2 linked regions of the Homo sapiens genome follow. The protein of the gene in region 1 purifies or fractionates together with the protein of each later gene. This does not show direct contact. Each region holds a gene or a part of one and is shown on either strand. Other genes may lie near its edges.

Evidence for each region. Proteins that work in one complex are often made in the same cells at the same time.
Region 2: the proteins of GCH1 (region 1) and GID4 purify together in Homo sapiens (affinity purification with mass spectrometry, with the first as the bait; one large-scale study listed by BioGRID). This does not show direct contact.

What each region holds. Positions count from the first base shown.
Region 1 is NC_000014.9:54,867,242-54,872,561, forward strand, and holds part of GCH1 (GTP cyclohydrolase 1), read right to left. Parts: intron 1-5,320. UniProt on the Homo sapiens protein: Positively regulates nitric oxide synthesis in umbilical vein endothelial cells (HUVECs). May be involved in dopamine synthesis. May modify pain sensitivity and persistence.
Region 2 is NC_000017.11:18,055,495-18,059,922, forward strand, and holds part of GID4 (glucose-induced degradation protein 4 homolog), read left to right. Parts: intron 1-1,208; coding exon of another isoform or gene 1,209-1,532; exon of another isoform or gene 1,533-1,977; intron 1,978-3,373; coding exon 3,374-3,475; intron 3,476-3,781; coding exon of another isoform or gene 3,782-3,805; exon of another isoform or gene 3,806-4,254; intron 4,255-4,428.

The sequences.
Region 1 (5,320 bases):
GACAACCATATGGCCCATGTTAAAGTCAGCCCTTCAACTCAGGCGAAGTGAAGAGCTGGCTCCAGGCTGGGTGCAGTGGCTCATGCCTGTAATCCCAGCACTCTGGGAGGCAGAGGTAGGTGGATCACCTGAGGTCAGGTGTTTGAGACCAGCCTGGCCAACATGGTCAAACCCTGTCTCTACTGAAAATACAAAAATAAGCCAGGCGTGGTGGTGCATGCCTGTAGTCCCAGCTACTCGGGGGGCTGAGACAGGAGAATTGCTTGAACCCGGGATGTGGAGGCTGCAGTGAGCCGAGATCATGTCACTGTACTCTAGCCTGGGCAAGAGAGAACAAGACTCCGTCTCAAAAAAAAAAAAAAAAAAAAAAAAAGATCTGGCTCCATCACTTACTAGTTATTAGGCCTTGGGCAAGGTACTCTGTACCTCAGTCTTCTCGGCTATAAAATGAGCATAAAGTGCCTGCTTCACAGGGTGTCATGAGGATTAAATGGGCACATGTGTTTAGAACTATGCAGGCGGAGCAAGTGCTAGTTATTGTTATTACTATTATTATTACAATTAAGATTGAGGGAGCTGCAAAGCTATGTATCTCCCATGCATATTGAGGTACATCAAAATTTAAAAAGCAATAATTTGCCTTAACAGAGTACAGAAAAGGAAAAATAGTAACTTGGTGGAGAAACCTGGCAGAGGCTACCTTAACCAAATGATTAAGGTTAACTTTGCCAGTAACAGGACATACTGACATCAGGTAGCTCCTGATAGGACACCATGAGAAGGGCACATCACCTCTGCGGTATTCTTCCCAAAAATCCATAACTGCAGCCTAATCATCAGACAAATCTAGGGACACAAAATATCTAAACAAGTACTCTTAGAAAGCATCAGGCCAGGCACAGTGGCTCACACCTGTAATCCCAGCACTTTGGTAGGGCAAGGTGGGAGGATCACTTGAGCCCAGCATTCTGAGACCAGCCTAGGTAACACTGCAATATCCCATCTCCACAAAAAATAAGAAAAAAATTAGCCAGGCACGGCAGCACACTCCTATAGTCATAGCTATTCAGGAGGCTAAGGCAGGAGGATCACTTAAGCCCAGCAGTTCAATGCTACAATGAGCTATGATTGCACCACTCCACTCCAAATAGAGTGACAGGGCAAGATCCTGTCTCTATTTTTTAAGTGTTTAAAAATTAAAAAAAAAAATTAAGGCATCAAAGTCATGAAAGACACAGAAAGACTAAGGAATTGTCAGATTGTAGGAGACTAGAGAAATGACAATGAAAATCTGAATAAAGTCTGTAGTTTAAATAATAGTATTGTACCAATATTACTTTTTAAAATAAAGTATATTTTTATTATTTTTTCTTTTTTTGAGACAGAGTCTTGCTCTGTCGCCCAGGCTGGAGTGCAGTGGCATGATCTCGGCTCACTGCAAGCTCTGCCTCCCAGGTTCACACCATTCTCCTGCCTCAGCCTCCTAAGTAGCTGGGACTACAGGCGTCTGCCACCACCCCAGCTAATTTTTTGTATTTTTAGTAGAGATGGGGTTTCACCATGCCAGCCAGGATGGTCTCGATCTCCTGACCTCGTGATCCACCCGCCTCAGCCTCCCAAAGTGCTGGGATTATGGGCGTGAGCCACCGTACCTGGCCTTATTATTATTATTATTATTTTAGAGATGGGATCTTGATATATTGCTCAAGCTAGTCTTAAACTCCACGGCTCAAGCCATCCTCCCACCTTGGTCTCCCAAGTAGCTGGGACTACAGGCATGCACCACCACCTGGCTCCAATATTAATTTCTTTTTTGAGATGAAGTCTCACTCTGTCACCCAGGCTGGAGTGCAATGGCGTGGTCTCGGCTCACTGCAACCTTCGCCTCCCGGGTTCAAGCGATTCTCCTGCCTCAGCCTCCCGAGTAGCTGGGACTACAGGCACGTGCCACCAAACTCAGCTAATTTTTTTGTATTTTTAGTAGAGACGGGGTTTCACTATGTTGGCCAGGCTGGTCTCGAACTCCTGACCTCGTGATCTGCCAGCCTTGGCCCCCCAAAGTGCTGAGATTACAGGCGTGAGCCACCATGCCCAGCCAGTATTAATTTCTTAAATGTTGATAATTGTACCATGGCCATGTGAGATGTTAAACATCAGGAGAAACTGGGGAAAGGGTATATGAAAACTCTCTCTACTATCTTTATAATTATTCTGTAAGTCAGTCTAAAATTGTTTCAAAATAAAAACTTTCTTTTTGAAACGAAGTTTTGCCCTTGTTGCCCAGGCTGGAGTGCAATGGCACAATCTCAGCTCACTGCAACCTCTGCCTCCCAGGTTCAAGTAATTCTCCTGCCTCAGCCTCCTGAGTAGCTGGGATTATAGACACATACCACCACGCCCAGCTAATTTTGTATTTTTAGTAGGGATCGGGTTTCTCCATGTTGGTCAGACTGGTCTGGAACTCCCGACCTCAGGTGACCCACCTGCCTCAGCCTCCCAAAGTGCTGGGATTACAGGCGTGAGCCACCGTGCCTGGCCCAATAAAAAGTTTTCTAAAAAGCAAAAGGACAATGTCCCTCAACTGGAACATATAAACAATGGAGTACACTCAGCAAGAAGATGGAATGAATTACTGATACATGTAATAACATGGTTTGAGTCTCCAAAGTACACTACAATGTGAAAGAAGACATCCATACACAGAAGAGACTACCTATGTTCTAGAAAAGGCAAAACTATAGTGATAGAAGGCAGACAGGTGGTTTACCAGGGCCAGAGAGGTAGGAGAGAGAACTTCACTGCAAAAGGAAAGAAAGAAACTTTTTTGGGTGATGGAAATAGTTCCTATCTTCACTGTATGGGTGGCTATATAACTGCATACGTTTGTTAAAATTCACATTGTACATGTAAAGTAGGTAAATTTTACATAAGATAAGTGACACCTTAATAAAGCTAACTTCAAACATAATTTTTAGGCTGGGTGCGGTGGCTCACATCTGTAATTCTAGCACTTTGGGAGGCGAAGGTGAGAACATTGCTAGAGGCCAAGAGTTCAAGACCAGACTGCCCAACCTAGCCAGACTCTGTTTTTACCAAAAAAAAAAAAAAAAAAAAAAAAAGGGTGGGGGTGGAGCCAAGATGGCCGAATAGGGACAGCTCCAGTCTACAGCTCCCAGTGTGAGCAACGCATAAGACGGGTGATTTCTGCATTTCTAACTGAGGTATCGGGTTCATCTCACTGGGGAGTGTCGGACAGTGGGTGCAGGACAGGGGGTGCAGCGCACCCAGTGAGCCAAAGCAGGGCGAGGCGTCACCTCACCCGGGAAGCACAAGGGGTCAGGGAATTCCCTTTCCTAGTCAAAGAAAGCGGTGACAGATGGCACCTGGAAAATCAGGTCACTCCCACCCTAATACTGCACTTTTCCAACGATCTTAGCAAACGGCACACCAGGAGATAATATCCTGCGCTTGGCTCGGAGGGTCCTACTCCCACAGATCCTCGCTCATTGCTAGCACAGCAGTCTGAGATCAAACTGCAAGGCGGCAGCGAGGCTGGGGGAGGGGCACCCGCCATTGCCGAGGCTTGAGTAGGTAAACAAAGCGGCTGGGAAGCTTGAACTGGGTGGAGCCCACCGCAGCTCAAGGAGCCCTGCCTGCCTCCGTAGACTCCACCTCTGGGGGCACGGCATAGCCGAACAAAAGGCAGCAGAAACTTCTGCAGACTTAAAAGTCCCTGTCTGACAGCTTGGAAGACAGCAGTGGTTCTCCCAGCATGCAGCCTGAGATCTGAGAATGGACAGACTGCCTCCTAAAGTGGGTCCCTGACCCCCGAGTAGCCTAACTGGGAGGCACCCCCAAGGAGGGGCAGACTGACACCTCACACAGCCGGGTACTCCTCTGAGACAAAACTTCCAGAGGAACGATCAGGCAGCAACATTTGCTGTTCACCAATATCCACTGTTCTGCAGCCTCCGCTGCTAATACCCAGGCAAACAGGGTCTGGAGTGGACCTCCAGCAAACTCCAACAGACCGGCAGCTGAGGGTCCTGACTGTTAGAAGGAAAACTAACAAACAAAAAAGACATCCACACCAAAATCCCATCTGTACATCACCATCATCAAAGACCAAAGGTAGATAAAACCACAAAGACAGGGAAAAAACAGAGCAGAAAAACTGGAAACTCTAAACATCAGAGTGCATCTCCTCCTCCAAAGGAACGCAGCTCCTCACCAGCAACGGAACAAAGCCAGACGGAGAATGACTTTGACGAATTGAGAGAAAAAGGCTTCAGACGAACAAACTACTCCAAGCTAAAGGAGGAATTTCGAACCCATGGCAAAGAAGTTAAAAACCTTTAAAAAAATTAGACGAATGGCTAACTAGAATAACCAATGCAGAGAAGTCCTTAAAGGACCTGATGGAGCTGAAAACCATGGCACGAGAACTACGTGATGAATGCACAAGCCTCAGTAGCTGATTCGATCAACTGGAAGAAAGGGTATCAGTGATGGAAGATCAAATGAATGAAATGAAGCAAGAAGAGAAGTTTAGAGAAAAAAGAATAAAAAGAAATGAACAAAGCCTCCAAGAAATATGGGACTATGTGAAAGGACCAAATCTATATCTGATTGGTGTACCTGAAAGTGACAGGGAGAATGGAACCAAGTTGGAAAACACTCTGCAGGATATCATCCAGGAGAACTTCCCCAATCTAGCAAGGCAGGCCAACATTCAGATTCAGGAAATACAGAGAATGCCACAAAGATACTCCTCGAGAAGAGCAACTCCAAGACACATAATTGTCAGATTCACCAAAGTTGAAATGAAGGAAAAAATGTTAAGGGCAGCCAGAGAGAAAGGTCAGGTTACCCACAAAGGGAAGCCCATCGGACTAACAGCTGATCTCTCGGCAGAAACTCTACAAGCCAGAAGAGAGTGGGGGCCAATATTCAACATTCTTAAAGAAAAGAATTTTCAACCCAGAATTTCATATCCAGCCAAACTAAGCTTCATAAGTGAAGGAGAAATAAAATCCTTTACAGACAAGCAAATGCTGAGAGATTTTGTCACCACCACGCCTGCCCTACAAGAGCTCCTGAAAGAAGCACTAAACATGGAAAGGAACAACCGGTACCAGCCACTGAAAAAACATGCCAAATTGTAAAGACCATTGAGGCTAGGAAAAAACTGCATCAACTAACGAGCAAAATAACCAGCTAACATCATAATGACAGGATCAAATTCACACATAACAATATTAACCTTAAATGTAAATGGGCTAAATGCTCCAATTAAAAGACACAGAATGGCAAATTGGAT
Region 2 (4,428 bases), on another chromosome or scaffold:
AAATTTTTTTTAGAGTTGGGGTCTTGCTCTGTCGTCTATGCTGGAGTGCAGTGGCATGATTATAGCTCACTATAGCCTCAACCTCCTGGGCTCAAGTAATCCTCCCACCTCCGCGCCCCAAGTAGCTAGAACTACAGGCACGTGCCACCACACTGAGCTCATTTTCTTTTATTTTTGTAGAGACAGAGTCTCCCTATGTTACCCAGGCTGGTCTTGAACTCATGATCTTAAGTGATCCTCTTGCCTTGTCCTCCCAAAGTGCTGGGATTATAGGTGTGAGCCACTGACCCAACCTGTTTTTTTGGTTTTTCTTTTATGGGGGTTTTTGTTTTGTTTTGTTCTGTTTTGTTTGGTTTGGTTTTGAGACAGAGTCTCAGTCTGTCACCCAGGCTGGAGTGCAGTGGCGTAATCTCGGCTCACTGCAACCTCTGCTCACTGCAACCTCCGCCTCCCAGATTCAAGTGATTCTCATCTCTCAGCCTCTCAAGTAGCTGGGATTACAGACGTGCACCACCGTGCCTGGCTAATTTTTGTATTTTTAGTAGAGACAAGGTTTCGCCATGTTGGCCAGGCTGGTCTTGAACTCCAGGCCTCAAGTAATCCTCCTGCCTTGGCCTCCCAAAGTGCTGGGATTACAGGCGTGAGCCACCATGCCCAGCCCCAAGCTGTTTTTTACTTGAGTAAAAAAAGGAGATCTATCAAATACTGAGGTTCAGTTAAATTTAAATTTAAACTTGAGCTTTTTAAAGCGTTTTTTGAATTCTATACATTTTGATTGTTGTAGCAAATGGACACTAAAAACTAGACAGTCATTTGTGTCTCTCTGTGATACAAGAGAATGCACAAGACCTGAGTATCCAGAAGGTTGGGGGAGCCCAAGTGGTGTATGAAGGTGCTGGCCACCAGCAGGTGGAGTTGGAAGGGCTCCCTAGTACCATCTGCGCCCACCCCTGCCCAGGGCTAGGCTCTTCCTGCATGGCTTGCTGCCTCACGAGATGGCTCCTTCCTCTCCTGTACAGTCCCAGAGTAGAAGGTTCTTCCTTGTAGTAAACCACAGCCTCTCTCCCATTCAACTCTATTTTCCATTTCATATTGGTCCTGCAAAAAGCAAAGTCTTTGAGGCCCAGTGACACTCAGTTTTAGGCTAGGTTGACTACAAATTAAATACTTGGAAAGCAACTCTTAATTTTCCCATTGACTTCCGTTAGAACATTGGAAGATATCTGGATCTGCAGACTCTGCTAGACTGGACTGAAACATTTTGGGTGAGAGAGGAACTAAGAAGGCCACCCTTGGTACTGGCATGTGAGGTGTGGTTGAGCCAGGGAGCTGAACCTATGGAGTGCTTCCTCCTCCAACAGTTTGTGGCTGCTTTTGTAGTACTCAGCATTTCCCCTAACTTTCACCACTCATGGAGGACTCCCAGGTTCCCACGTGGGACTCCTGGAGCTCTGTACTGCACCTGGGTTTGTCTGAGATTTACAATGTCTAATACACTTCACCTAGGCTGTCATTTTTTCATTATAAACTAGAATCAGAGATATTGTATTGCATCCTCAGATTTTCCTGAGTGGTATTTAAGTTGCTATTATAGTGGTACTATAAAGTCAGGATTCCATATATTCAGTCTACATAGGATAAAAATGTCTATGTGACACCAGGTGTGGTGGCTCATGCCTGTAATGCCAGCACTTTGGGAGGCCGAGGCAGATGGATCACCTGAGGTCAGGAGTTCGAGAACAGCCTGGCCAACATGGTGAAACCCCATCTCTACCAAAAATATAAAAATTAACCAGGCATGGTGGCACACACCTGTAATCCCAGCTATTCGGGAGGCTGAGGCAGGAGAGTCACTTGAACCTGGGAGGCGGAGATTGCAGTGAGCTGAGATCATGCCATTGCACTCCAGCCTGAGCAACAAGAGCAAGACTTTGTCTCAAAAAATAATAATAAAATAAATCTATGTGACAAAATCTATGACTTAATATCTCTGTGTCTTGATTTTTTATTTAAGATGTTTTCTTATCAAATTAACACATGCTTGTTTAAAAATATTTGAAAAAATAGAAAAGCTGGAGGAAAAGGAGTCATCTATGGCAACACCTAAAACTAAAATAGCTGTTAACCTCTTCCTGAATCTCTTTTGGGTATACAGTGTATACTTGTTTTTTGTCTTTTTTTTAAAAAATGGGATCATAAAATACAGTTTTGTAACCTATTCCTAATCTCCTGTTGTAAATGTAGTCAGCCCTCCATATATGTGGGTTCTGTATCTGTGGATTCAACCAGCCACAGTTTGAAAATATTTGAAAAAAAAAATTGCATCTGTACTGATGATGTATAGATTTTTTTTTTTTGAGACAGAGTCTCGCTCTGTTGCCCATGCTGGAGTGCAGTGGCACGATCTCGGCTCATTGCAAGCTCCGCCTCCCGGGTTCACGCCATTCTCCTCCTCAGCCTCCCAAGTAGCTGGGACTACAGGCGACCACCACCACACCCAACTAATTTTTTCATATTTTTAGTAGAGACAGGGTTTCATCGTGTTAGCCAGGATGGTCTTGATCTCCTGACCTTGTGATCTGCCTGCCTTGGCCTCCCCAAGTGCTGGGATTACAGGCGTGAGCCCCCACACCCAGTGGATGTATAGATTTTTTGTTCTTGATATTTTTCCCTGAACGATACAGTATAACCACTATTCACTTAGTATTTACATTGAATTAGGTATTATAAGCAATCTAGAGATGCTATAAAGTATAGGGGAGGATGTGTGTAGGTTATCTGCAAATACTGCACTGTTTTATATCTGGGACTTAAGCATCTGCAGATTTTGGTATTCATGGGGGTCCTGGAACCAATCTCTCGCAGATATCGAAGGACAAGGCTATCATGTGTTTCTAGTGTCTGCTTAGCTAGCTGGCCCAAGCCCCTAGATCATGCAGAGACACAAGCTTCACAAAGCCCTCTTCTCTGAGACTGGGCAGGCTGTTTCTAAGCTGTTTTGCATGGCTCTTTTTGCTACTTCGGATTTACTTGCAGAGGTCTTCTCATTAATTTTTCTTAGCTTTCGTCTGTTTATTTTGTCTGTCTGTTCACCATTCCCATCCTTTGGCCTTTTCCTCAGCCATGTTAACAAGGCAGGTGTAGGGCAGTGGGGCCCCAGCTGGAGTCCAGGTATCTGCCCCAGGGTTGAGTCTGCATTCAATGGGGTGACCATAGGGCCCCATCTGTTACTTGGTCTTAGCTGCCCTTTTGGGAGCCACGTCCCTAGCTGTCATGCCTTGGGAAGGTGAGTTTACCTGGGCACATAAGCATAGTTCTGAGAGCAGCCTCTCCTTCTCTCAGTCAATCGGCACACTCTCTTTTCTGCTTTCAGGGCAAGTTTCTGGCTTTTTATCAGTATGCAAAATCATTTAACTCAGATGACTTTGATTATGAAGAGCTGAAGAATGGAGACTACGTCTTCATGAGGTGGAAGGTAAGTTCCCACCAGGTGGCCCTCCAGACTCCCAGCAAGCCAGGCCCTGTATCGCACCTACATATTCACTCTAACCAAGGGCTCCCCATGTCCAGTGCTCGTCACAGCTGGTTGTCATGGCAAAGTCTTCATGGCAGGGTCTTTGCACGCCTATAAAAAGTGGGCCCAGCTCCAGGGCACGCACTGGTTAACTGCCGATGTCCCAGACAGCTCCTCCTCGCTGTGCTTTTGGTGGGTAGCAAGTGGATTTGGGCCTAGGTGGCTGCCTCTAACATTGTCTTCTCCCTTTCCTTTCTCCCACCCAAGAATCTTGTTGAACCCCCAAGTTGAATCACTCCAAGTGTTCTGTGGATTCAAGGCAGAGCCAAACTTGCTTTGAACTTAGTCATCAGTTGTACCCAGATCCCTCTACAGGCTTAAACACCATCCGTGGGCCAGGTGCCCTCCACCACATCCTTTTCCCAGAGCTCAGGAAAGTCTCACCTCCTCTACTTCCCTCCAGCTCAGGAAATGAGGGACCGGGAATGGAACACGGGTTTTTGACTCAGCAGACCTCAGAGAGCCCCACCTGACTGACTTGATGGATTGGCTTTTAGCTGCGAGGTCATTTGTGCTCCCTGCTTTGATAACGTGATATTTACAGCCCCAGAATAGCAAAATCAGGAAGCCAGTTTGTTAAATAACTTTGAGAACATACCAACCCCTAGTCCCCAGTCTGCAGGGAAAAAGTCGTTTTATCTTGAAATCTTGTCAGCTTTCATAAAGATGAATCATATTGAGTTGCCTTTCCTGGTCTTTATTTTGCATAGCTAACCACTTTAGGAAGTGGGGATCGGCCGGGCGTGGTGGATCACACCTGTAATCCCAGCACTTTGGGAGGCTGAAGCAGGCAGATCATGAGGTCAAGAGATTGAGACCATCCTGGCCAACATGGTGAAAACCCATCTCTACTA